Homo sapiens: one gene and its partners. The protein of the gene in region 4 interacts with the protein of the main gene of each other region in a pairwise test. Each region holds a gene or a part of one and is shown on either strand. Other genes may lie near its edges. The genes, in order: HILPDA, SLC39A14, SLC44A2 and BDKRB1.

What was found.
Region 1: the proteins of BDKRB1 (region 4) and HILPDA interact in a two-hybrid assay, tested with the Homo sapiens proteins (one large-scale study listed by BioGRID and IntAct).
Region 2: the proteins of BDKRB1 (region 4) and SLC39A14 interact in a two-hybrid assay, tested with the Homo sapiens proteins (one large-scale study listed by BioGRID and IntAct).
Region 3: the proteins of BDKRB1 (region 4) and SLC44A2 interact in a two-hybrid assay, tested with the Homo sapiens proteins (one large-scale study listed by BioGRID and IntAct).

The regions. Positions count from the first base shown.
Region 1 is NC_000007.14:128,449,438-128,458,677, forward strand, and holds HILPDA (hypoxia-inducible lipid droplet-associated protein), read left to right. Parts: upstream 1-6,440; 5' UTR 6,441-6,586; intron 6,587-7,763; 5' UTR 7,764-7,831; coding exon 7,832-8,023; 3' UTR 8,024-8,981; downstream 8,982-9,240. UniProt on the Homo sapiens protein: Increases intracellular lipid accumulation. Stimulates expression of cytokines including IL6, MIF and VEGFA. Enhances cell growth and proliferation.
Region 2 is NC_000008.11:22,409,259-22,415,777, forward strand, and holds part of SLC39A14 (metal cation symporter ZIP14 isoform a precursor), read left to right. Parts: intron 1-687; coding exon of another isoform or gene 688-857; intron 858-2,778; coding exon 2,779-2,948; intron 2,949-5,521; coding exon 5,522-5,644; intron 5,645-6,510; coding exon 6,511-6,519. UniProt on the Homo sapiens protein: Electroneutral transporter of the plasma membrane mediating the cellular uptake of the divalent metal cations zinc, manganese and iron that are important for tissue homeostasis, metabolism, development and immunity.
Region 3 is NC_000019.10:10,639,446-10,647,002, forward strand, and holds the end of SLC44A2 (choline transporter-like protein 2), read left to right. Parts: intron 1-2,921; coding exon 2,922-3,006; intron 3,007-3,451; coding exon of another isoform or gene 3,452-3,573; exon of another isoform or gene 3,574-3,833; coding exon 3,834-3,940; 3' UTR 3,941-5,112; downstream 5,113-7,557.
Region 4 is NC_000014.9:96,259,210-96,262,236, forward strand, and holds part of BDKRB1 (B1 bradykinin receptor), read left to right. Parts: intron 1-21; exon of another isoform or gene 22-683; intron 684-2,879; exon of another isoform or gene 2,880-3,027. UniProt on the Homo sapiens protein: This is a receptor for bradykinin. Could be a factor in chronic pain and inflammation.

The DNA of each region.
Region 1 (9,240 bases), on a different chromosome or scaffold from region 4:
AACCCCATCTCTACTAAAAAAAAGTACAAAAATTAGCTAGGTGTGGTGGCTGGCACCTGTAGTTCAGCTACTCGGGAGGCTGAGGCAGGAGAATCGCTTGAACCCGGGAGGTGGAGGTTGCAATGAGCTGAGATCGCACCACTGCACTCCAGCCTGGGTGACAGAGTGAGACTGTCTCAAAAAGATAAAAATAAATAATAAATATAAATATATTTATTTATTTAATAAGGTTGGTCTTGAATTCCTGACCTCAACTGATCCACCTGCCTTGGCCTACCAAAGTTCCAGGATTATAGGCATGAGCCACCGCGCCCAACCAACTCTTAACATTTTAATATACAGACTTAAAAAGTCTAAAATTGGCTGGGTGTGGTGGCTTACACCTGTAATCCCAGCACTTTGTGAGGCTGAGGCAGGTGGATCACTTGAGGTCAGGAGTTTGAGACCAGCCTGGCCAACATAGTGAAATGTCTCTACTAAGAATACAAAAATTAGCTGGGCATGGTGGTGGGTGCCTGTAATCCCAGCTACTCGGGAGGCTGAGGCAGGAGAATCACTTGAACCTGGGAGGCGAAGGTTGCAGTGAACCGAGATTGCACCATTGCACTCCAGCCTGGGTGACAAGACCAAGACTCTGTCTCAAAAAAAAAAAAAAAGTCTAACATTAATCAATATTTACTTTCCTCCCAAATAAAAACATATTAAACTTCATCTTTGCTCACTGTTCCCATCTGAAATGTTTACCAATTTTTCAGTTTATCTTGTTATTTTTACTTTTCTAAATCAACCATTATTACTAAAAATAGTTTTGAGTAGTCATAATTTGTTTAGATACATCCATATGTTTTGTAAATATTTCCTTACCATTTTTTCTTGCATTTCCCTATTTCCTTTTGGGTTCAGTTTTCTTGTGTCTTAGGTTCATTCTTCAGTAGTTTCCACGGTAAGGGCCTACGGCAGCTAACTCTGTTTTTGTTTGTCATCTGACGATGTCTTCAACTTGCCCTCCTTTAAAGAAAATAATGACTTTATTCAGATATAGTTCACATATCAAAATCCACCGTTTTAAAGGATACAATTCAATGGTTAAGTACATTCATAGACTTGTATAACTGTCAGCACTAATTTTAGAACATTTCATCACCAGCCCACACACCAAAAAAAAAACCACCCTGTACCCACTAGCAGTCATTCCCCAGTCCCCTCTCCTCCAGCCCTTGGCAACCACTTACCTACTTTCTGTCTCTGTGGATTTGCCTTTTTTTTTTTTTTGAGACAGTCTTGCTCTGTTGCCCAGGCTGGAGTGCAGTGGTGTGATCTCGGCTCACTGCAACCTCTGCCTCCTGGGTTCAAGCGATTTTCCTGTCTCAGCCTCCCAGGTAGGTGGGACTACAGGTCAGCACCACCATGCCTGGCTAATTTTGTCTTTTTGGTAGAGACAGGGTTTCACCATGTTGGCCAGGCTGGTCTCAAACTCCTGACCTCCAGTGATCTGCCCACCTTGGTCTCTGTGCTGGGATCCTCAAAGTGCTGGGCTTACAGGTGGGAGCCACTACGCCCAGCCCTGGATTTGCCTATTCTGACATTTCATATAAATGGAATCATACGATATGTACCCTTTTGTTTCTGGTTTCTTTCACTTAGCATAATGTGTTCAAGGTGCATCCATATTGTAGCATGTATCAATACTTCATTTTTTATGGCTGAATAATATTCCATTGTATCACATTTTGTTTATCCTTTAGCCAGTTGACGGACATTTGGGTTGTTTCTACTTTTTTGGCTATTATGAATAATGCTGCTATGAACATTTGTGTATAAGCGTTTGTGTGTGAACATACATCTTCGGTTCACTTGGGTATATATTTAGGAGCTAAACTGCTGGATCATACAGTAACTCTATGTTTAACTTTTTGAGGAACTATTCTAAAGCAGCTGCACTATTTTACATTCTAACAGCAATGTATGAGGGTTCTGTTTTTTCTACATTTTCATCAACATTTGTTCTTTTCTGGGTTTTTTTGCTTGTTTGTGTTATAGCCATCCTAGTGAGTGTGAGGTGGTGTCTCATTGTATTCTATTTTTTATGTTCATTTTAACATAAATGTAGCATACTGCTCACATACTATAAACCCTTTTCATTTAACAATATATTGTGGAGATCTTGTCGATATATACAGAACTTACTCTCTTTTTTCTGGCTTTATGGTAATTCACTGTCTGAATGCACCATCTTTTATTTAACCAGTTCTCTACTGATGGGCTGTTTTTTCCAGTCTTTCATTATCACAAACAGTGCTGCAACAGTGCTACCTTTAAACACTCCATTCTCTACATGTGGAAGGATAAATCCTAAAAGTGGAATTCTGGGCTAAAGGGCATGTGTATGCTTTTATTTTTATAGACATTGCCAAATGGTAGTCAGTGGTCTTTTTTAACACCTCAATGGTCTTGAGGTGTTTAAAAAACAAGTGGGGGTCAGGGTAACAATTACTGACAAATTGATTTCCATACTGAATGTACCAGTTTATACTTACCAGAAATGTAAGTACATGTTATTTAAATGAACACTTGATGATAAGATCAAATTTGTGAAAATACTTGTGTTCTTAGTATGGTACTCTTGTGTGGGTTGACTTCAGAATCACTTCTTTTTAGGGGCTTTGGGGGAAGGGCAGCTTATAAAAAGCTTTCCTTGGTTGCAGCTCCAAGGAGGAGGTAGCACCTGAAAACGGCTTCTCTTGGCGCCCTTATCTACATTTCCTTGATGAAACAATGGGTACTCACTGAAGATGCTGGGTAAAATATTCATTCATTTATTCCTTCAGTCAACAAATATTTATCAAAAGCCTACTATTTGGTGCTAGCTGCTGGAGATGGAATGGAAACAAAATCAGACCAAACACTCCTTTCACTGACATTTTCAGGCTTTTGAAAGGACACAGACATTAATACAACTAAGGGTAAAGTAACACACTGGGAAAGAAATGCCTATCATGCCACTGGAGCCCGGAACAGGGTCCGAGGGTCAGCAAGGGTGACCAGAGGAAATATGTTTGAATTGAGATATGAAAGATGAGTAAAAGACTAGGTGAAGAAAGTCTCTTCTTCCTCTGGAAGAAAAAGCATAGTTAACAAATAAAGAAGGCTGGGTATGGTGGCTCACACCTGTAATCCCAGCACTTTGTGAGGCTGAGGCACGTGGATCACTTGAGGTCAGGAGTTTGAGACCAGTCAGGGCAGCATAGAGAGACCCCATCTCTACAAAAAAAAAAGAAAGAAAAGCAAGAAAAGAAAGGAAAGAAAGGGAAGAAAGGGAGAAAGAAAGAAAAAGAAAGAAAGAAAGAAAGAGAAAGAAAGAAAGAAAAAGAAAGAAAGAAAGAAAGGAAAGAAAAGGAAAAGAAAAGAAAAGAATTAGCTGGTGTGGTGGTGGCAAAGAAAGAAAAAAGAAAGAATTAGCTGGGTGTGGTGGTGTGTAACTGTAGTCCCAGCTACTTAGGAGGCTGAGGTGGTAGGATAGCTTGAGCCCAGAAAGTCAAGGCTGCAGTGAGCAGTGATCGTGCCACTGTACTCCAGCCTGGAAAACAAAGTGAGACCCTTTCTCAACAACAACAACAAATAAAGAAGAGAGGCAATAATACCTACCTCATAGCATCGTTAGAAAAATTAAATAATACATGTAATGCATTTAGCAAAATGTTCAGCACGTATCAGTTACTTGAAGAATGCTTATTTTGTTTCCACTCTTTCTTTCTTCTTTTTTTTTTTTTTGAGATGGAGTTTCCCTCTTGTTGCCCAGGCTGGAGTGCAATGGTCTGATCGCAGCTCAGTGCAACCTCTGCCTGCCAGGTTCAGGTGATTCTCCTGCCTCGGCCTCCCAAGTAGTTGGGATTAAAGGCATGCGCCACCATGCCTGGCTAATTTTGTATTTTTAGTAGAGAATGTTGGTCCATGTTGGTCAGGCTGGTCTCGAACTCCTGACCTCAGGTGATCTGCCCGCCTCAGCCTCTCAAAGTGCTGGGATTACAGGTGTGAGCCACCATGCCCAGCTCTTTTTTTTTTTTTTTTTTAAATAACCATAGTGAATGTTAAAATCCCAGTTCCCCAAGCAAAACATTACCACCCTACTTATGTACTTACTTCTAAACTCTACCCCACACTGCCTTGGGTTGTTAGTTATCTTATCTTATTCAGGTCTTGTTTACTCAACCAGGTGACAAGCTTATTTAGAACAAGAATCTGGCTTTATACTTTTTAGCAAAATAATAGCTACTATTTGTTGAGCATATATGACATACTCTTTATGGGCATTATTTCCAACCCTCACAACAACCCTGTTTTACAGATTATTTTCCTCATTTTACAGATAAGGAAACTAAAGTTCAAAGGGGTCAGTTAGCCTGGCCAAGGTGTTGAAGGCAGGACTAAATCCTGATGCAGGTAGCTACATTTGTAGCTGACAGAATGGTAAAGCATAGAGCTGCCCTCACCCAAACCCTTCTTATTTCCAACTGGCATGACCTTTAGACAATGGCAGGGAATATGGGGAGAAAGAATTGTTGGAGAGGTGCCCATCCCTTCTTCCAGCTGTGTGAAGTATAAATTTAGAACTCAAACTAAGTAGAACTCAAATGGTCATTGTAGAATTCCTGCATTCATTCAGCAAGCCTAGGCTGCTAATGAGCAAAACCCCTCACTGGGAGTTTTGTAGTTGATGATACAGATAATGTTAAGATTCATAGAATGTTTTTTATGTGCCAGGCATTGTTCTAAGCGCTTTATATGGATTAATTCATTTAATATCAGGTTAAGACTGTTATGATCTCACAGAACAGCTGAGGAAACAGAACTACAAGAAGGTTAAAGGGTTCGCCCAAGGCCTTCACCTGGCAAAGTAGTGGCGTTTGGATCTGGCAGTGATTTCGCAGCTTGAGACCTATTTAATAACAGTGTGAGAGAAGGGTCACACAGTCAAGCAAAAAAACAGACGAAACTCTGGTATAGCGAAGGACCAAAAGTTCTGCGGGCTGAGCAGGAAAGTTGGCTCCAAATGTCTGCCTGCCTGCCAGCAGACCTCCAGCCCCAACCTTCTGCTTTCCCGGCTTCCCCACCCCCTCATTCCCGACAGACCACAGCCAGCCAGCCAGGAAAGGAGGGGAAAGGTCGCAGTGGGGATGGCTCCTCCCTTCCCGTCTTAGAGCCCTTCTTAAGCAGAGCCCGCCGAGCTCGCTGAGATGTGGAAAGTCACAGGGTTCTTTCCCATCCGGCACGGGCACTTGACCCGGGTACACGGAACCGCCAGTTCTAAAGCCACCAGCGGCCTTCCCTTCCACGGCGTGTACACCCCTTCCCGGGGGTCCTCCCCATTCCCAGTGTCTCTCCGGGACTCTACTTTCTGAGATCCCCCGTTGCGTGCTCTCAAGACAGACCGCACAGTCTTGGCTGGGTGGGTTCGGGGGTGATTAGTAAGGCAGCCTAGCCCCCCAAATCTGGACATAAGGCTGGTCTGTGACCTCCTGGCTCTTTAGTTCAAGCCGAAAGCACCCTTAAAAATCATCTAGCGGCCGGGCGCGGTGGCTCACGCCTGTAGCCCCAGCACTTTGGGAGGCAGAGGTGGGAGGATGGCTTGAGATCAGGAGTTCGAGACCAGCCTGGGCAACATAGCGAGACTGTCTCTATTTAAAAAAAAAAAAGAAGAAGAAGAAGAAAAATCATCTAGTGGCCAATGTCTTCATTACAGATGAGAAAACCGAGGCCCATTTAAATACCAAGTGACTTGCCCATATGCAGTTAGGATCCCACACCAGGGCCAGGAGTATTTCACGTTTTCTGAAGCGACACGACAAACTCTCATAGAAAGCAGAGCTTGCAGAGCTTAATATGTTGCACAAGGGCCTCACCATTCCAGAGATACCGATGGCAACTGAAACTCGGGATTTGGAATCTTGGTACAGCTATGAAGTGAAACAAAACCAGCTCTTCAGTCCTTGAAATGAAGAAAATAACGAGTGGGGTAGGGGTCTGGTGCCCTCTGACAATTTAGTGCACCCGAAATCTCTGGGGAAGAACCCACCCTTCACGGCGGGGCTTCACGGACACGAAGGCCATCGGTGTTTTTCACCTACTGGGGAGAAGGGATATGTGCTCTCTGACTCCTTCAAATGTTTTCTACAGCAGAGATGGCAGTCGAGATTAATACACACGCCTCGTCTCACTCCAGAACACAATGACTCAAAACCGCACGACGTGTACTTTTGGAAACAGCTCCGCGGGAGAGCACCCGGGACAATCCCCAAACCCCGTTGCCCGCGGGGTGGGGCCGCGGACGTGCGCCACGTCGTGTGCGTCCCGGGCGTGCGTGCGGCCTCCAGTGCGCGTGCGCGTACCCTCCTGGGGCGTGCTCGCGGCTATAAGGGGCGGAGGCTGGGCGGCGTTGCTCTGCGCTCTGCGGCTGACGGCGCTTTTGTCTCCGGTGAGTTTTGTGGCGGGAAGCTTCTGCGCTGGTGCTTAGTAACCGACTTTCCTCCGGACTCCTGCACGACCTGCTCCTACAGCCGGCGATCCACTCCCGGCTGTTCCCCCGGAGGTGAGCGGCCCTGTGGGCTTCCCCGGCTCCCCACCCCCATCGCTAGAGTGCTCGCCGCGCTAGCAGCCTCGCGTTCCAGGGCTGGGGGTGCGCCGCCGGGATCCTCTCTGATCGCCCACGCCCCATCTGGGGTCCCCATTCAGCCGTCAGCCCTGTTTTGTCCTAAGGTGGTCCTAACTAGGATCCACGTGGCCCATCCCACGCCCACAGGTGCTGAGTTAGGCATCCCTGCCATGCCCTCCCAGAGCACCTTCACGATCTCCTTGCTGTCCCAACACTTAGCGTGTTGCGTGTTAACTACCCTTTGTCTATAAGGTTTGCAATGTGGCCCTAGTATCTTCCAGGGTACCTAACACATTGCAGATATTCATGGTATGTTTGTTAAATAAATGAACTTGATAGATTTGACCCTCATAGAGTTATTTGGACTTGCAAAAAGTTTGTAGTTAACTCCAATCTGTGATGTGGGAGAGACTTCTAGGCAGGTTCCTTTCTCCAGGGCATGTTCTTATATTTCCCATTACCCACCACCCCCCTGCAAAAGGACTGGGCCTATTTCAGGAAGGTGACTGATGCCTGCACTGTAGCACAGGGGTTGTGTATTGTGCCTTGCAGGAACAAAATTTTCAATAAAGTAAATGTTTGTTTGTTTGTTTTTGAGACGGAGTTTTGCTTTTGTTGCCGAGGCTGGAGTGCAATGGCGCGATCTTGGCTCACTGCAACCTCTGCCTCCCGGGTTCAAGCAATTCTGCCTCAGCCTCCCGAGTAGCTGGGATTACAGGCATGTGCCACTATGCCCGGCTAATTTTTGTATTTGTAGTAGAGACAGGGTTTCACCATGTTGGTCAGGCTGGTCTCGAATTCCTGACCTCAGGTGATCCACCCGCCTCGGCCTCCCAGAGCGCTGGGATTACAGGTATGAGCCACCGCGCCTGGCCTAAGAAAGTAAAAGTTTTAAGAAGTGTTCTTGAATTAGTCCAAGAAGCAACACTGGCTCCGCAGCCATGAAGTTTGCAATGTAAAATATTCTTGGAGAGTTGCTGTGCAACTCCCTGGTCCCTGTGTCCCTCACTGGCTAAGCCTCTCCTTCAGCCCTGTGAGAGGACAGAAGAGTCAGGGCTGGATGCATGCATATCCCCAAAAGGCTATAGATTCATCCTTTCCTCTTTTTTCTCAGGGTCCAGAGGCCTTTCAGAAGGAGAAGGCAGCTCTGTTTCTCTGCAGAGGAGTAGGGTCCTTTCAGCCATGAAGCATGTGTTGAACCTCTACCTGTTAGGTGTGGTACTGACCCTACTCTCCATCTTCGTTAGAGTGATGGAGTCCCTAGAGGGCTTACTAGAGAGCCCATCGCCTGGGACCTCCTGGACCACCAGAAGCCAACTAGCCAACACAGAGCCCACCAAGGGCCTTCCAGACCATCCATCCAGAAGCATGTGATAAGACCTCCTTCCATACTGGCCATATTTTGGAACACTGACCTAGACATGTCCAGATGGGAGTCCCATTCCTAGCAGACAAGCTGAGCACCGTTGTAACCAGAGAACTATTACTAGGCCTTGAAGAACCTGTCTAACTGGATGCTCATTGCCTGGGCAAGGCCTGTTTAGGCCGGTTGCGGTGGCTCATGCCTGTAATCCTAGCACTTTGGGAGGCTGAGGTGGGTGGATCACCTGAGGTCAGGAGTTCGAGACCAGCCTCGCCAACATGGCGAAACCCCATCTCTACTAAAAATACAAAAGTTAGCTGGGTGTGGTGGCAGAGGCCTGTAATCCCAGCTCCTTGGGAGGCTGAGGCGGGAGAATTGCTTGAACCCGGGGACGGAGGTTGCAGTGAGCCGAGATCGCACTGCTGTACCCAGCCTGGGCCACAGTGCAAGACTCCATCTCAAAAAAAAAAGAAAAGAAAAAGCCTGTTTAATGCACAGGTGTGAGTGGATTGCTTATGGCTATGAGATAGGTTGATCTCGCCCTTACCCCGGGGTCTGGTGTATGCTGTGCTTTCCTCAGCAGTATGGCTCTGACATCTCTTAGATGTCCCAACTTCAGCTGTTGGGAGATGGTGATATTTTCAACCCTACTTCCTAAACATCTGTCTGGGGTTCCTTTAGTCTTGAATGTCTTATGCTCAATTATTTGGTGTTGAGCCTCTCTTCCACAAGAGCTCCTCCATGTTTGGATAGCAGTTGAAGAGGTTGTGTGGGTGGGCTGTTGGGAGTGAGGATGGAGTGTTCAGTGCCCATTTCTCATTTTACATTTTAAAGTCGTTCCTCCAACATAGTGTGTATTGGTCTGAAGGGGGTGGTGGGATGCCAAAGCCTGCTCAAGTTATGGACATTGTGGCCACCATGTGGCTTAAATGATTTTTTCTAACTAATAAAGTGGAATATATATTTCTACTGTGTGTCATGTTGACTTCTGCTCTTGAAATTCGTGGTAGGGAGGGTCTTAATTTCTAGACCTGAGGTTTAATTTTAACATCTCAATACTTTGGAGCAGGAAAGTGCTTAAATCACTTTGTTTAAAACATAGTATCAGTAGACTTCTGAATTTGGGGGCAGAGGCAGTTGGGTCTGCCATGTATCAACCAGTTATGTGAGCCTAGGCCACGATTATTGCAGGCCTGTCATGACTAGATCTGTAAAGAAGAAGAAAAAT
Region 2 (6,519 bases), on a different chromosome or scaffold from region 4:
AGCCCTAAGCCCCATAGGGCCGGCGTGTGCTGCCTGAGTGTCGGCACCCGGAATATACTGTCTGTGTTACTGCAAGTCCCTGTTTTCTGCTGTCGTTATTTACTTGTATGGCTTTTTTTGTTTTTTTTGTTTGTTTGTTTTGAGACAGACTTTCGCTCTTGTTGCCCAGGCTGAAGTGCGGTGGTGCAATCTCGGCTCACTGCAACCTCCGCCTCCTGGGTTCAAGCGATTCTCCTGCCTCAGCCTCCTGAGTAGCTGGGATTTCAGGCACGCGCCACCACGCCCAGCTAATTTTTTGTATTTAGTAGAGATGGGGTTTCACCATGTTAGTCAGGCCGGTCTCGAACTCCTGACCTCAGGTGATCCACCTTCCTCAGCCTCCCAAAGTGCTGGGATTATAGGCTTGCGCCACCGCACCTGGCCTACTTGTATGGTTTTTAGGCTTCCATTGCTGTTTGCATCCGTCTCTCCATGGAAAAGGTGTTTCTCTTGGATAGCAATTTTGATAGTTTCCCTAGGCTTCTCCGCAGCATCTGGTGAGAGATGGACTCAGCAAATGTTTACTGATGGGTTGGTGGATCTCAGTCTGCCCCATCACACCTGAATTCAGAACAGGGCCGCCCCAGGCAGCAGGAGTGTCCCCACCCTCAGTAATAGAGGCCCTCGTCTGTTCTTGTTCCTCCACAGTGTGGGGCTTTGGTTTTCTCAGTGTCTCACTGATTAACCTGGCCTCTCTCCTGGGAGTCCTCGTCCTGCCCTGCACAGAGAAAGCGTTTTTCAGCCGTGTGCTCACTTACTTCATCGCCCTGTCCATTGGAACGCTGCTGTCTAACGCGCTATTCCAGCTCATCCCAGAGGTGCAGTAGAACAGAAACTTGCGCGTCCTCTTTCCCTGGGGCGGCACAGCTGAGCCAATCCCCTCCTCCCCTACCCTGGGCTCCAAGGCACCCAATGACTGCCACCTGAGAAATGAACCTGTCCCTCGTATCAAAGCCACAAACGACTTCTAACTCTGGATCTCAGGGCCCACCTCTCACTCCTCTGGCCTCTGCAGGTGCTGTCAGATGCAAGGTTCTTCCAATTTCCCTCCTCCTGGGGACTTGACAGTCTCCCCTCCCTTGTTAAGCCCCATACATAAGGCATCAAGGGAAAGCAGCAGCTATCGACTGCCGTCCATGCCTTTGGTGCTAAGTACTTGCTCTATTCTAAGGAGAAATCCTGGCAGTACTCAGGTCTGGGCACCAAGAGCTTATCCATCTGGAATGAGATGGAAGGAAAAGAGGTTACCAAGTGATATGTAGAATTGGCCTAAAAAGCGAGTGTTCTTTAATTTTGAGCAGGCCATCGTTTCTAGCATAGAGAGCCAAACACAGAACAAAGACTAAGACCAAACAAAATTAAAATGACAAGATAAATGGAAGGGGCACTCAGCCCTTTGTACCTTGCATCTTGACTTTTTTCTGATAGGACTGACTTCCTGGTACCTTGACTTGACTGTTTTGAAATGTTAATTTTGTTGTTTAATTGTTATCATAGAGGAGCTATAAAAATAAGGCCCAAGTTGACAGTCTGCCCACTTTTTTAGCTCAAGCAGGGATGCTGCTGTGGAGGGTGAGGATACGCAGACGTGTGGTTGACCCCATTAGGGAGTCATGGATGCTGCCCTTCACAAAGATCCCATGTCAGCTGCTTCTCAGGCTTTCCCAGTCAAAAGACTCACCCAGAAAAGACAGCAGATGGGATGCCATGCCTTGCCTGTTCTTCCTGGTTGAATGTGAACCATCTTGGTGCCATCTCAAAATTCTGCATGGCTCTGACAAACACTTTGCAGGGGAGGCCTCAACTTGGGCTATTTTTTCAGCTCCAGCAATGGAATATATTAATTTTTTAAAGATTTGAAATGAAAGGCCTTGTGACCTCCTGGAATGGAAATACTGTAATTGTGTGTGCTCCACCCCTGTGGCCTGCCAGGGAGTGTCTCATCCTGGTCTGGTTCTGTCTTGCCCTCTTTTGGGCCTGGACAGAGTGTCACAACTGGGAAATGTTCAAGGAAATATTTTTGTGACAGGGTGTTCCTGGAACTCTGTTCTTTGTGCTTGAGCCCCTCTCAGAGCACATGGAAATGAGCAAAGAAGTTGAGAGGTTAAGACACTGAATTTTATGGGCATTGGGCATGAATTAATCGTTCTCCATCCCTTCTGCCCTGCACATCTGGCTTGGTTGTGTCTTGCACAAAGCAAACCAAGTGGTCGTGGTGTCACCCGAGCCTGCGCCGTGTGAATTGGACATGCAAAAGCAAACGCAGCAGCAGAGTGATCAGCCTCTTTCCACCTGCTTGCATGTCCTATAAAGAGAGCCCTCGAGTCCAAAGTCTGTCCTGGACAGCCTCTGTGATAGGTCTGGGCAGACCTTGGGTGTGTGACGAGGCAGCACCCTGCCCTGCCAGTCACACCACTGGCAGGAACGATTTGGGGCCACCAGTGGCCACAGGGGCAGAAGTCACAGGGTTCCAAGGCCACCTTGAATTCCTCTTTCTTCTGAACTGATTGAAGGAAATTTCATCAGATGTGAATCACTAACAAATTTTCTATTTCTCTCTCCCTCCCTACTTGTCTCTCTCTGATTTTTCTTTTTTGTTCCGTTAATATCCACCAAACTTTTCCTTGCGACCTCCCTATCTGCTCCACCTTCCTCCCGCTAAATGGTGGTTGCTGTGCAATGGGGCATGTGCCTTCTCTCCCTGCCCTGGGTGGGGCTGGCCCTCCCTCCGCACGGCAGTGTGGGGATACGGTCTCCTCTGTGTGACCGTCATCTCCCTCTGCTCCCTCCTGGGGGCCAGCGTGGTGCCCTTCATGAAGAAGACCTTTTACAAGAGGCTGCTGCTCTACTTCATAGCTCTGGCGATTGGAACCCTCTACTCCAACGCCCTCTTCCAGCTCATCCCGGAGGTATGGCAAGCCAGGGCCTTCACCCCGGAGCATGCCGGCGGGCACAGTGGGAGGACCTCCGTTTGGATAGAAGGCATAGAGAGGGCACCTGGAGGCCCTTTCCTTTTGGAAAGCGAAGCTAGAACTTAGGCGTGAACTAGGAGAGGCAGCCCAGCATAGGCTGAAGAGCTGGGTTCAAATCTCAGCTCTGCTATCAGTAGGTTCCGTAACCCCAGGCACACCACTGACCTCACACTGCCTCTGTTTCTTCAGATGTGAAATGGGGAGAGCAATAGACCGGCCTCAGGATGATGTTGTGAGGGTGGAACGAGCGAGTCTGCTGCAGCACTGAGTGCCTGGTGCGGAAAGTGCTGTCTGATGTGGGGTGAAAAGATGCAGTGTAGCGAGCTCACTCTGGCTTAGTTGTGGTGCTCAGATTAAGGCTTTGGGTGCAGAGAAGTTTAAAAAACATCATCAGCCGGGTGCAGTGGCTCACACCTATATTCCCAGCACTTTGGGAGGCTGAGGCAGGTGGATCGTTTGAAGTCAGGAGTTCAAGACCAGCCTGGCCAACATGGTGAAACCCCGTCTATACTAAAAACACAAAAATTAGCCAGACGTGGTAGCGCACGCCTGTAATCCCAGCTATTCGGGAGGCACAAGAATCACTTGAACCCAGGAGATGGAGGCTGCAGTGAGCCGAGATTGCACCACTGCACTCCAGCCTGGGTGACGGGAGTGAGACTCCGTCTCAAAACAAACAAACAAACTCCCACATCATCAGAACCCACAGTTCTCAGTAAAAAGATTGTCCATAGGGAGTTTTGGGGCAAAGGCAATGCAAGTCAAACAATGTCTGGTTTTATATACCTTGATGGTACCTTTGCCTAATAAGTTCATGAGAAAACTTGCCACAAAAGAAGGAGCTGATGGTTCATCTAATTTGGTGTAATCCCCTCAGCAGACCCATTAATTACAATAAGCACAGGACGTCTCCCTGTGGGTGGTCTCGCAGGCCTGGACAGAGCCGCAGTTGAAGCAGAGATGACTGCATGCGCCTCTTACAACACTTGGTGTTTTCTGAAATGTCAGTTGGCTCCCTCCTAGTGGATCCTTAGGTTAACTCCATGGCATCGATAGAACAAGTAACGTTTTACCACGTTGGAATCTGACCTGCACAAGAGCGCATATCCCTGAGTCGAGAACCCAGCTTTTGGGATTTCTGAAGCTCAACCCCATGATTCTGTATTCACCATCCTTTGTGGCTTTTTGCAGAGAAGTGTTCGTTGCCTATTTTCACTTCACTTTTCCCCCAAGATGATTCGACTCCCCTGGAAAGTCAACATGAAAGTGTTGTTTCCCTGGAGGGTGGTGATTCAATTTGGCCTGTTTAAAACATAAAGGCAACAAACAGCCCAGAGTTCCTTGAAGTTGGGATCAACTTTTATTTTGGACCAATTCATGAGAGGGCTGAAGTTTATTCAAGGCCCGTTTCCCATCAGAAAATGGAGGAACAACCCGGTAAATATATATACTTCCTATGTACCCACAAAAAAATTTAAGAATAAAATAGGAGCAAGTCGTTAGATACTTTTTTTTGTTTGTTTTTGAGACAGTCTCACTCTGTCACCCAGACTGGAGTGCAGTGGTGCCATCTCGGCTCACTGCAATCTCTGCCTCCTGGGTTCAAGCCATTCTCCTGCCTCACACTCCCGAGTAGCTGGGATTACAGGTGTGCCACCAGGCCCAGCTAATTTTTGTATTTTTTTTTTTAGTAGAGTTGGGGTTTCGCCATGTTGGCCAGGCTGGTCTCAAAACTCCTGGCCTCAAGTGATCCACCCACCTCGGTCCTTTAAAGTGCATGAGCCACCGTGCCCGGCCAGGTCATTAGACACATTCACAAGAACCCACCATAAATCAGGAGCTTACCCTAGGACAGAATTCTCTTGATTTCTACTCCTGTCCTCTTCCCAGTGGATTCTCCCCTCCCTCTTTGATAAGTGACAGTTTCAGAAAGGACTCAAAACAAAACCCAAAAATTGACGCTCGCAATAACACAGTCCACTTTCTTGGTTCTGTGGTCACTGGGAGGTCTGCGGTTAGGAAAACGCTGCAGTTCTTATTACTTAACTGGGAAATGGGTTTCCCGTTTTAGAAAGTATAATTACACCATCTCCCTTTGTGTTTACAGGCAGGTCAGCCAGGAACACTAGATAAGATGAAAATAAATACAAGTGTCTGCTCCTTCAATATGAAATCTATTGGCAGAGAATGCCTTCATAGCAAAGCACCAAGATAAATCAAAAGTGGAAAACCATATCGGAGGTTTTTCTTTCTGGGATTAAAATTCTACAGATGATCAGTCTTTTGCATCAGCAAATAAGCTTGAGAAGAACCTGGCAGGTTTAGTGATGTCACATCAGGGAAACACCAAGGACTAGATTTTTGCTGGAAAGAGGATGGGTAGACGGCAGAGTTACTCCATTATGCCTCTCTCCTTTCCTAGAGTCAAGGAAGTAGTTAAGAGATAAGAGGGGGATCAGTAAAGATGCTTTATTTTCTTTAAAACTCATTTTCTTTTCCTGGGTCCACAGGCATTTGGTTTCAACCCTCTGGAAGATTATTATGTCTCCAAGTCTGCAGTGGTGTTTGGGGGCTTTTATCTTTTCTTTTTCACAGAGAAGATCTTGAAGATTCTTCTTAAGCAGAAAAATGAGGTGAGGCCCAATTGTTGCTGAAGAAAGCTCTTCTAGGGAAAACACCCATCTCAAACAATGTTGATGTATTGTGGTGGTGGTGGTGATGGTCTTAGCCCAATATCACAATTTCCGTGAAACTCTAATTTCTTGAGGAGACAATCCCATTTCACCTCCTGAGGATATTTGGCCAGAAGTGAGGCCAGACCAGAAACTAGATCTGGCCAGGGTGCCTTCTACTAAGCAGTAGTTTATCCCCTTTGTTTTGTTCTAAGATTATTTCCTTAATATATTTGTATCTTTACAGGATGGGGAGAAGAGCTTGATACCATGCATTCATTCTGTATGAAGTATGAGGCTGCAGAGAAACAGGACTATTATAGTACAGTTTCAAAAAGATATCTTTAGTGGCTGGCATGCAGTTATTCCCTAAATAGCTGCTGAATTGAGTGAGATTAGCCATTGCAAAAGAGGAGCTCTAAATATTTGAGCAGTGGCTGCCTTGGTGGAATAAGCATGTACCCCGAGGAGACAGCTTTGATATCTGTCTGACACCAGGTCCTTCGCACTTGGTGCAGATTTATATATATAGATATTAGAAACGGGGTCTCGCTTCGTTGCCCAGGCTGCTCTCAAACTTCTCAGCTCAAGCAGTCCTCCCACCTCGGCCTCCCACAGTGCTGGGATTACAGGTGTGAGCCACCGTGCCCGACCATGGCTTTATATAATAGCTTTTGCTATGTTTCTGGGCACGTGACCTGCTTGTGTCATCTTCGATGGTAAGGCTGAGGTCTTCCAGTGTGTGAAGCACTTCCTTGGAGCAGGTGCTCAATCAGGTTTGTGGTTTTGGTGAATGTCATGCTGATCCCTCCCTGTCACCCTTCCAGCATCATCAT
Region 3 (7,557 bases), on a different chromosome or scaffold from region 4:
GGTCCAGGTGGTGCCATGCAGGTGATGTTGGATCTGAGATCTGAAGCTGCAGGCAATATCCAGGCAGAGGGAACAGTACAGTGGCCCTGAGGTGGGAGTGTGCCAGGAAGCAGTGGGGCTGACGTGGAAGGAGTAAAGAAGTGGAGATAAGGGCCAGGCACCGTGGCTCACACCTGTAATCCCAGCACTTTGGGAGGCTGAGGCAGGTGGATCACCTGAGGTCAGGGGTTTGAGACTAGCCTTGCCAGCATGGCGAAACCCAGTCTCTACAAAAAAAATACAAAAATTAGCGGGGCGTGGTTGTGGGCACCTGTAATCCCAGCTACTCGGGAGGCTGAGGCAGGAGAACTGCTTGAACCTGGGAGGCAGAGGTTTCAGTGAGCCGAGATCGCGCCACTGCACTCGAGCCTGGGTGACAGAGTGAGACTCTCTCTCAAAAAAAAAAAAGTGGAGATACGGCCAAGGAGGTTAACAAGGCTGTGGAGGGATTGAGCCTTCATTGCAAGGGCAGTATTGTATCTCAGTGTAGGTCTTGAAGCCCATTGACCTAGTTTCTTATTTTAGTTCCTCTATTTAGTAGTTCTAAGATGAGTAAGAGTAATCTTGGGCAAATTATTTAATCCTCTAAGGTCCACTGACTTTTTTTTTTTTTTTTTTTTTTCTGCGATAGAGCCTTGCTCTGTCACCCACGCTGGAGTGCGATGGAGTGATCTCTGCTCACCACAACCTCCACCTCCCGGGTTCAAGCGATTCTCCTGTCTCAGCTCCCTGACTAGCTGGGATTACAGGCATATGCCACTGTGCCCGGCTAATTTTTGTATTTTTAGTAGAGACGGGGTTTCACCCTGTTGGTCAGGCTGGTCTCGAACTCCTGACCTCAGGTGATCCACCCACCTCGGCCTTCCAAAGTGCTGCCAATAAAGGCATGAGCCCCTGTGCCTGGCCATTTCATTGTTTTGAATTTTTAATTTAATATAATAGAGATAGGCCAGGTGTTGTGGCTCAGGCTCTACTATAATAACAATAATAATAGAGGCAGTGTCTCCCTATATTGCCAGGCTGGTCTTGAACTCTGGACTCAAGGGATCCTCCTGCCTCAGCCTGCCAAAGTGCAAGGACTACAGGCATGAGCCACCACGCCCAGCCAGGTCCACTGACTTCAGTCAACAAATGTTTATCTAGCAGCTACCAAGGCCGTGTGAGTCTCCAGATTGCTAGGGATGCAGCAGTAAATGGGACTGGGTCTAGTGAGGATGTGAGCATTAAACCTGAAAGCCCTAAACATGCATAAAATTGCAGCTGCACCAAGAGCTCAGGAGGGGTGCCCAGTGCTAGGAGGACATAAAATAGGCTCTAGAGGCCGGGCATGGTGGCCCACACCTGTAATCCCAGCACTTTGGGAAGCCAAGGCAGGCGGATCATGAACGTCAGGAGATTGAGACCATCCTGGCTAACATGGTGAAACCCCATCTCTACTAAAAATACAAAAAAATTAGTCAGGTGTGCTGGTACGCACCTGTAGTCCCAGCTACTCAGGAGGCTGAGGTAAGAGAATCGCTTGAACCCGGGAGGTGGAGGTTGCACTGAGCCAAGGTCCCACCACTGCACTCCAGCCTGGGTGACAGAGCAAGATTCCGTCTCAGGAGGGAAAAAAAAAAGGCTCTCAGCCAGACGCAGGGGCCCACATGTATAATCCCAGCACTTTGGGAGGCCGAGGCAGGCAGATCGCTTGAGCTCAGGAGTTTGAAAACAGCCTGGGCAACATGGCAAAACCCCATCTCCACAAAAAAATACAAAAATTAGCTGGGTATGCTGGAACATGCCTGTAGTCCCAGCTCCTTGTAAGCCTGAGGTGGAAGGATCACTTGAGCCTGGGAGGTCAAGGCTGCAGTGAGCTGAGATGGGGCCACTGCACTCTAGCCTGAGCAACACAGTGAGACCCTGTCTCAAAAAAAAAACAAAAAAAAAACGCCCACTCTAGGTGTCGTAGGTGGTTTCCTGGAGGAGGTGGGACTTGAGGACTTGCTCTTTGAGCTGAAAGCAGAAGGTCGATGGGGCATAAATTAGATTTAAGTCAGGACAATAGCACATGCAGAGGCCCAGGGGTTAAAGAAAGCAAGGGTGAGGCTGAGTGCAGTGGCTCATACCTGTAGTCCCAGCACTTGGGGAGGCCAAGGTGGGCGAATCTCTTAAGCCCAGGATGGGTAATGGGTAACGTGGCAAAAACCCATCTCTACAAAAAATACAAAGGTTAGCCGGGCACAGTGGTGCACATCTGTAATCCCAACTACTCCGGAGGCTGAGGCGGGAGGATCACTTGAGCCCAGGAGGCAGAGGTTGCAGTGAGCTGAGATTGCACCACTACAATCCAGCCTGGGCTACAGAGTGAGACCGTGAGACCCTGTCTCAAAAAAAGAAAAAAAAAAAAGGCCGGGTGTGCGGTGGCTCACGCCTGTAATCCCAGCACTTTGGGAGGCTGCGAGGCAGGTGGATCACCTGAAGTCAGGCGTTTGAGACCAGCCTGGCCAACATGGTGAAACCCCGTCTCTACTAAAAATACAAAAATGAGCCAGGCGTGGTGGCACGTGCCTGTAGTCCCAGCTCCTCCGGAGGCTGAGGCAGAATTGCTTGAACCTGGAAGGCAGAGGTTGTAGTGAGCCAAGATCGTACCATGGCACTCCAGTCTGGGCAACAGAGTGAGATTCCGTCTCAAAAAAAAAAAAAAAAGACGGAGAGAGAGAAAGAGGATTTTGTGTGGATGGTGGGGCCCTGCCAGCGGGGGTGAGGGGTTGGGATGTCACTAATCCAAAGAGGGTTTCTCAGCAGGGGAAGGATGTGGTCCCAGCATAGGATGGACTCAGGGGGTGGGGGCTGCTCTGGGAAGGACACGGAGCAGGGACAGCTCGTTTCTCCTTGCCCAGACGGTGATCGTTGGCTCCTACTTGATTGCACACGGTTTCTTCAGCGTCTATGGCATGTGTGTGGACACGCTGTTCCTCTGCTTCTGTGAGTGACCCCTCACCCCAAACCTTGCTGGGCCCCGAATCCCTTCTTTCCACTGGGCATCACATCACCCTCCAACGGGGCAACACGCTTGCCTGCCCCCAGCTTCCCCAGGGCTTGGCTGTCCCTCGTCCTGGGTCCCCAGCCTGTCTTCCTGGTTTCCTTTTGCGCTTAGAAGCAGCTCCGACCTCCTGTCCACTGGCCCAGGCTGCAGCCTGGACGCTGCCCTGGAGCCCGCCCGCGCTTCGCAGTTTCTGGCTTTGACTGGGGGGAGGGGATCTGTGGCTGCCACTAACTCTGGTCTCTCCATCTGTTTTTTTTGTTTGTTTTTTTCTTCTCTCTTCCTCTCCTCCATGCCTGCTGGCTTCCCTGTTCTTCCCTGCCTCCCTCTTTCCCTCCCTTCCCGACCACCCCATTTTCCCCCTGCCGGTTCCCGGGGGGAGCCCAGGTGAGGACCTGGAAAGGAATGACGGCTCTCAGGAGCGACCCTACTTCATGTCGCCCGAGCTGAGAGACATCCTGTTGAAGGGGAGTGCGGAGGAGGGGAAGCGGGCAGAAGCCGAGGAGTAGAGAGTGAGGGAGACTGGCGTGGGGGCCAGGTTTCCTCCATGTAGACTGGGGGTGCATGAAGCGGGGGGGTTCCTGGCCTGCGAGTGTGGGGATCCTGTGTGTCCCTCGGAGCCCACTACAGTCTGCCCCTCTCTGGTCCCAGTGTGTCTGCTTTCTAACCCTCTGAGGCTTCTCTGTGACCCTCATCCACCTACCCTGTCCTTGAGGCCCCTGCCCGTGGGCTCCCCTCATGCCTCCTGCTCTGGGACCTCTCTCCACAGTGGAGGACCTGGAGAGGAATGACGGCTCGGCCGAGAGGCCTTACTTCATGTCTTCCACCCTCAAGAAACTCTTGAACAAGACCAACAAGAAGGCAGCGGAGTCCTGAAGGCCCCGTGCTCCCCACCTCTCAAGGAGTCTCATGCCGCAGGGTGCTCAGTAGCTGGGTCTGTTCCCCCAGCCCCTTGGGCTCACCTGAAGTCCTATCACTGCCGCTCTGCCCCTCCCCATGAGCCAGATCCCACCAGTTTCTGGACGTGGAGAGTCTGGGGCATCTCCTTCTTATGCCAAGGGGCGCTTGGAGTTTTCATGGCTGCCCCTCCAGACTGCGAGAAACAAGTAAAAACCCATTGGGGCCTCTTGATGTCTGGGATGGCACGTGGCCCGACCTCCACAAGCTCCCTCATGCTTCCTGTCCCCCGCTTACACGACAACGGGCCAGACCACAGGAAGGACGGTGTTTGTGTCTGAGGGAGCTGCTGGCCACAGTGAACACCCACGTTTATTCCTGCCTGCTCCGGCCAGGACTGAACCCCTTCTCCACACCTGAACAGTTGGCTCAAGGGCCACCAGAAGCATTTCTTTATTATTATTATTTTTTAACCTGGACATGCATTAAAGGGTCTATTAGCTTTCTTTCCGTCTGTCTCAACAGCTGAGATGGGGCCGCCAAGGAGTGCCTTCCTTTTGCTCCCTCCTAGCTGGGAGTGACGGGTGGGAGTGTGTGTGCCCAGGTGGGGGTGTCTCCTGGCTGGGAAGGAGGGAAAGGGAGGGAGAGTTTTGCGGGGGTTGGCAGTGGAGAGCAGGCTGGAGAGGAGATGGCTAATAGCTGTTTAATGGAAACCTGCTGGGCTGGAGGGAGTTAGGCTGAATTTCCCGACTTCCTCTGCCAGTTATTGACACAGCTCTCTTTGTAAGAGAGGAAAGAAACTAAACCCACCCAAGGGATGATGTCAGGGGGAGAGGTGGAGGGCAGATGTCCTGGGCAAACCGGGCCCCTCTGCCCACACACCTCACTTGATCCTTTTGCCAAACTTGTCAAACTCAGGGGAACTGGCTTCCCAGTTGCCCCTTTGCCATATTCCAAGTCCCCCTCAGACTTCATGTCTCTGCTCATCAGCACTGTCCCAGGATCCTGGAGAGGGAGAACTCCTGGCCCCAGGGGAAAGAGGGGGGGGTCTCCCGTTTCCTGTGCCTGCACCAGCCCTGCCCCCATTGCGTCTGCACACCCCTGCGTGTAACTGCATTCCAACCACTAATAAAGTGCCTATTGTACAGGTCCAGGCCTGGTGTGTTTGTTGGGGGCAGTGAGCCAGTGGCGGCTGGTAGGGGGAACCCCAGCTTCCAAGGCCCTAGGAGTCTCTGAACTAGGGCGATTCTCTCAAAGGGAACGAGGAGGGGGCAGGAAACCCACTGGCTGCTGGCTCTGCCTGAATTCCAACCTTCAGGCAGCTCAGATTTCCCGATTAGGCTCTAATCCCTGGACTCCAGAAGGCAGAGGCAGCCTGTCCACCTCCGCCATCACCCATCCTGGACACACGCCCCCAGGCCTCCCCTCTCTCAGGGCCCAGGCACCTGAGGTCCTGCAGTCACTATGCTCCCCAGCTACTTTGGATCTGCGAAGGGACTGACTGCCCTTGGGGTGGGCCCCACTGCCTGGAAGCTCGCTGCTGCCCCCTCGTGCCAGCTGCCAGTGTCAGTCACCTCCAGGCAATCCGCCCCAACATTTCAATTCTTTCCACCTCCTCTCAGGGAATTTTTCTTCAATATCCACTTTTTTTTTTTTTTTTTTTTTTCAGACAGTCTTGCCCTGTCACCCAGGGTGGAGGGCAGTGGTGCGATCTCGGCTCACTGCAACCTCCACCTCCCGGGTTCCAGCGATTCTTCTGCCTCAGCCTCCCGAGTAGTTGGGATTACAGGTGCCTGCCACCACGCCTGGCTAATTTTTTGTGTTTTTAGTAGAGACCAGGTTTCGCCATGTTGGGCAGGCTGGTCTCAAATTCCTCACTTCAGGTGATCCGCTGGCCTCGGCCTCCCAAAGTGCTGGGATTACAGGCGTGAGCCACCTGGCCCAGCCTTTTTTTTTTTTTTTTTTTTTTGAGACAGGATCTCACTCTGGCTGAAGCTAAAGTGCAGTGGTGCAATCATGGCTCACCACAGCCTCAGGTGATCCTCCCATCTTAGCCTCCCGAGTAGCTGGGACTACAGGTACACACCACCACACCTGACTAATTTTTGTATTTTTTGTAGAGATTGATTTTTACCATATTGCCCATGCTGGTTTTTTTTGTTTGTTTGTTTGTTTTTTGAGACAGAGTCTCCCTTTGTGGCCCAGGCCACAGTGCATAGTGCCACAGTGCAGTGGCACAGTCTCAGCTCACTAAACCTCCTGGATTCAAGTGATTCTCGTGCCTCAGCCTCCTGAGTAGCTGGGATTACAGGCGCGTACCACCACATCCAGCTAATTTTTGTAGTTTTAGTAGAGACGGGGTTTCACCATGTTGGCTAGCCTGGTCTCAAACTCCTGACCTCATGTGATCCACCTGCCTCGGCCTCCCAAAGTGCTGGGATTACAGGCATGAGCCACCAAGCCTGGCCAGCATTTTTGTTTGTTTGTTTCCAAGAAGGCATTTGAACCCAGGTCTTGGCTCCAGAGTCCTCAAGTTCTACCCTATGCTGGCACTGACCCCTTCCTCGATGCCTTTGTTTCCCTGGATCCTTTGAATCTGGCATTTTATTCAGCCCCAGCTCCTGTTACCATGCCCACCTAAAAAATAGCTCCTGGCGGCCGGGTGCGGTGGCTCATGCCTGTAATCCCAGCACTTTGGGAGGCTGAGGCGGGTGAATCATGAGGTCAGGAGTTTGAGACCAGCCTGGCCAACATGGTGAAAACCTGCTGCTACTAAAAATACAAAAATTAGCCAGGCATGGTGGCACATGCCTGTAATCCCAGCTACTCGGGAGGCTGAGGCAGGAGAATCGCTTGAACCCAGGAGGCAGAGGTTGTGGTGAACCAAGATGACACCATTGCACTCCAGCCTGGGCAACAGAGCAAAACTCTGTCTCAGAAAAAAAAAGAAAGAAAGAAAAAGATTTGTGGTACGATACATATAGCATAAAATTTGCCATCTCCATCTCTTTCTTATTTATTAAGCCACTGGGTCTCACTATGTTACCTGGGCTGGCCTTGAGCTCCCGGACTGAAGGGATCATCCCGCCTCAGCCTCCCAAGTAGCTGGGATGACAGGCACTCGCCACTGTGCCTGGTTTATGTTTAATTTTTTGAGGAACCACCATAGTGTTTTCTGGCTTCATGCTTTGGCTCCACTTCTGGGTTGGCTTCACTCTCTGCCAAGTTCCTTTATCTGGGTATATTCCCTGCCTCCAACCACACTGTGCTGTGATAGTTAATTTTAGGTGTGAACTTGGCTGGATTAGAAAATACTCAGATTTGAGCTGTGATGTGGTAAAAATAAGACAAAGAAAAAAAAAAAAACAGTGGCTGGGCTCCGTGGCTCACGCCTGCAATCAGCACTTTGGGAGGCCGAGGTGGGCAGATCGCTTGAGCTTGAATTCGAGACCAGCCTGGGCAACATGTGGAAAGCTTGTCTCAACAAAAACTATGAAAATTAGCAGGGTGTGGTGGTCATGCACATGTTGTCCCAGCTACTCAGTAGGATGAAGTGAGAAGGTCACTTTAGCTCAGGGGGTGGAGGGTGCAGTGAG
Region 4 (3,027 bases):
AATTCAACGAAAATTTATAGATCTGTTTTAATACACTGTTTAATAACATTTTAGGATGCTGAGACTCAATGTCCACTAAAATTGATTGATAATGGGAAAATAAAAGAGAAAACACATGTGAAAGTCCAGTTTTTTAAAAAAATTCATGAACAACTTTATCACAAGTTTGTAGTTCAGTAAATCTGTGCATATGTTTTAACATTTTGTAAATTTTGTCACGTACGTCTATAAATGTCAATTTATAGAATATTGACATTTATTTATATGCAATAACAAATTGTGTGTGCACCATGACCTGTTCCAATCACATTTCTGTTTCATTAGTGTCTTAATTTAGTAGGAATATTATTGTTACCATGACGCTGGACTCCACCACAATTTGTGTTTTATCCTCACAAAAATGCAATGACTTTATTTCCAATGTGGAAAATTTAAACAACTTAAATAGCATTCACAAAAAGTCAGTTGTTTCACTTTGCCAGAATGAATGTCCCAAAGCCCTGCTTGGCTTCCATGAGCTGAATGAAAGAATGAATTGTGATTGGAATTAACAGGTTTTTCTGTCTGAAGAGTCCGAGGATACTGGTGTTGAGCTGGCACCATTTTGCTTTCTGTGATGTTCTTCTTATGGAGCCAACACACAGTCAGCCATCACTTCCACTGTTGCACGTGCACAAGAAAAGCTGGAATTAAATGTGAGCTGAGTTAACTTAAAGAACAGTCATTTGATCTAAGGGAAAAGTCATGCCTCTCAGAATGATCTTATATCAGCATCTTTTGCAGCTACATGGATGAGAACCGTGTCTTAGGGTGCAATTTTTTTTTTTTTTTTTGAGACAGAGTCTCACTCTGTCACCCAGGCTGGAGTGTACTGGTGCGATCTCAGCTCACTGCAACCTCTGCCTCCTAGGTTCAAGCAATTCTCTGCCTCAGCCTCCCAAGTAGCTGGAATTACAGGCACCTGCCATCACACCCAGCTAGTTTTTGTATTTTTAGTACATACAGGGTTTCACCATCTTGGCCAGGCTGGTCTTGAACTCCTGACCTCATGATCCACCTGCCTCGGCCTCCCAAAGTGCTGGGATTACAGGCTTGAGCCACCACGCCCAGCCTGGTGCAATGTTCTTAAAATTACTAATTTCTAAAGTAGCAGCTCTGTGTCTTAGGTTTTCTTGCAATCAGTGAAATTGCTACAGACCCCATAGTGATGCAAATGTCAACAAACGTTCTATGCAAGCTATCTGCTCATCAACAACTTCCTTGAGCAACAGAAGTGCAGTACTTAAATTTCCATTAAATATTTGTTTTTTAGCTCATTACTCCAAAAGGGTTTATTTCAAATTCTTTAAGTATTGCCAAATGATAAAATACACATAGTTTTGGATTTATGCCCTGCAAAAAATGACCAAACTATTGTAACAAGAGCCTCCAGCCTCCTCCATATTATGCTCTGGGTGGGGACTGCTCAGCTTCCATGTGCCATGGACATTTCACAACCACCAAATCATAATTTCCCATGTCTCCTGTTGATCTGTCAACCGGCAGCTGTGCAACTTCTGCTCTTTTATCTACTCTCTCCCTTGGTGATTTCATCCAGCCTTGTGGCTTTAAATGCCATTCCTATAGTTACAACTCCCAGTTAGGTCTCATCATCCCAGATCTTGTCCCTGAATACCACACTTGTCTACCTAATTGCCTGCTGGATGTCCCCATGTGATGTCCAATTTATATCTCAACCTTAACAATTCCAAAGTTGAACTCCTGTTCTTCCCCACCCCCCACAAAAAAAACTGCTTCATCTTCATTCTGTCACCTTCATTTCAGCTGATGACAACTTCATACTTCCCAGTGTTCAGTCCAAAAACCTTGGCATTGTCCGATTTCTCCTTTCTCCCACCCAGATCCAACTGAAAATCACGGTGTTACTACCTCCAAAACACCTCTAGAGTTTGATCACTTGATCACTTCTCACCACCTGCCCTGCTACTCTCCCCAGCTGTCACCCGCCAGCATGTTTATTTAGTGTGTGTATTGTTTATCAACTTCTTCCTCCTGCTAGGCTTATACGCACACTGAGAGCAGGGATTTTTGCCTGCTGTATTCACTGCTTTGTCCTAAATACCTAGAACAGTGCCTGGCACATAGTACATTCTCAGTAAATACTTGTTCAGCAAATAAATAACTGGAGGAACCAGTGAATTATACCCCGGTGTGAATAACTCCATGTGAGTGACATGACAGAATGTCAGAGCTAGAAGGGCCTCTTGAGGACATCATGTCTTCCTTAGATGAGGAAAGTCAGGCTCAGAGACATGAACTGACTCTCCTGAGGTTACACAGCCAAATATGCTCTTCCAAGGTTAATTCTCTGCTACACAATAGCTTTTGTTGGTATCTGTGAGGCTTTGCGGGGTTGAAGGAATCTCAGGTGTCACCCATTAATAACAATCATGACAGTGACAACTAATGTTTGCCACGTGCTTACAATAAGTCAGGAACCCTGCCAAGCACCGGGCGTATATTAACCTATCCAAGCTGGGGAAGAATGTTTAGGCTCTGAAGATTGTCTGGAGCCGCATAAATCCCGCAGTGTAGGCAGCTGCTCATTCTGCAGATAGTATTCTGTGGATCCCTGAGTTGGCTGTGGCCGGTTTTGCCAGCAGGAGGCCACGAAGCCATGAGCACAGGATGGGATCTACCCCTTGTGGGATCGCAGAGGGCTGGGAGATGCAGTCCTCCCTATGGAAAGAGACAGAGCTTTCTATCCCTCTCCCGGTGAAACTCAGCATGGGAGCATGGGAGGCAGGTCAGCTGCGTGGCTATGAACATGAGCTATGGGGTGCATGCAGACCAAGGTTCATAGTGTACACTGTACCCACCAGCTGTAGCTCCTCCAGCAAGCGTGGGAGGCCAGTCAGCTGCATGGCTGTGAGCACGGCCTCTGGGGTCCATGCAGACCAAGGTTCCTGGCGTAGCACTGTAACCACCACCTAGGTCTTCTCCGACAAGCTGGTTAACTTCTCTGAG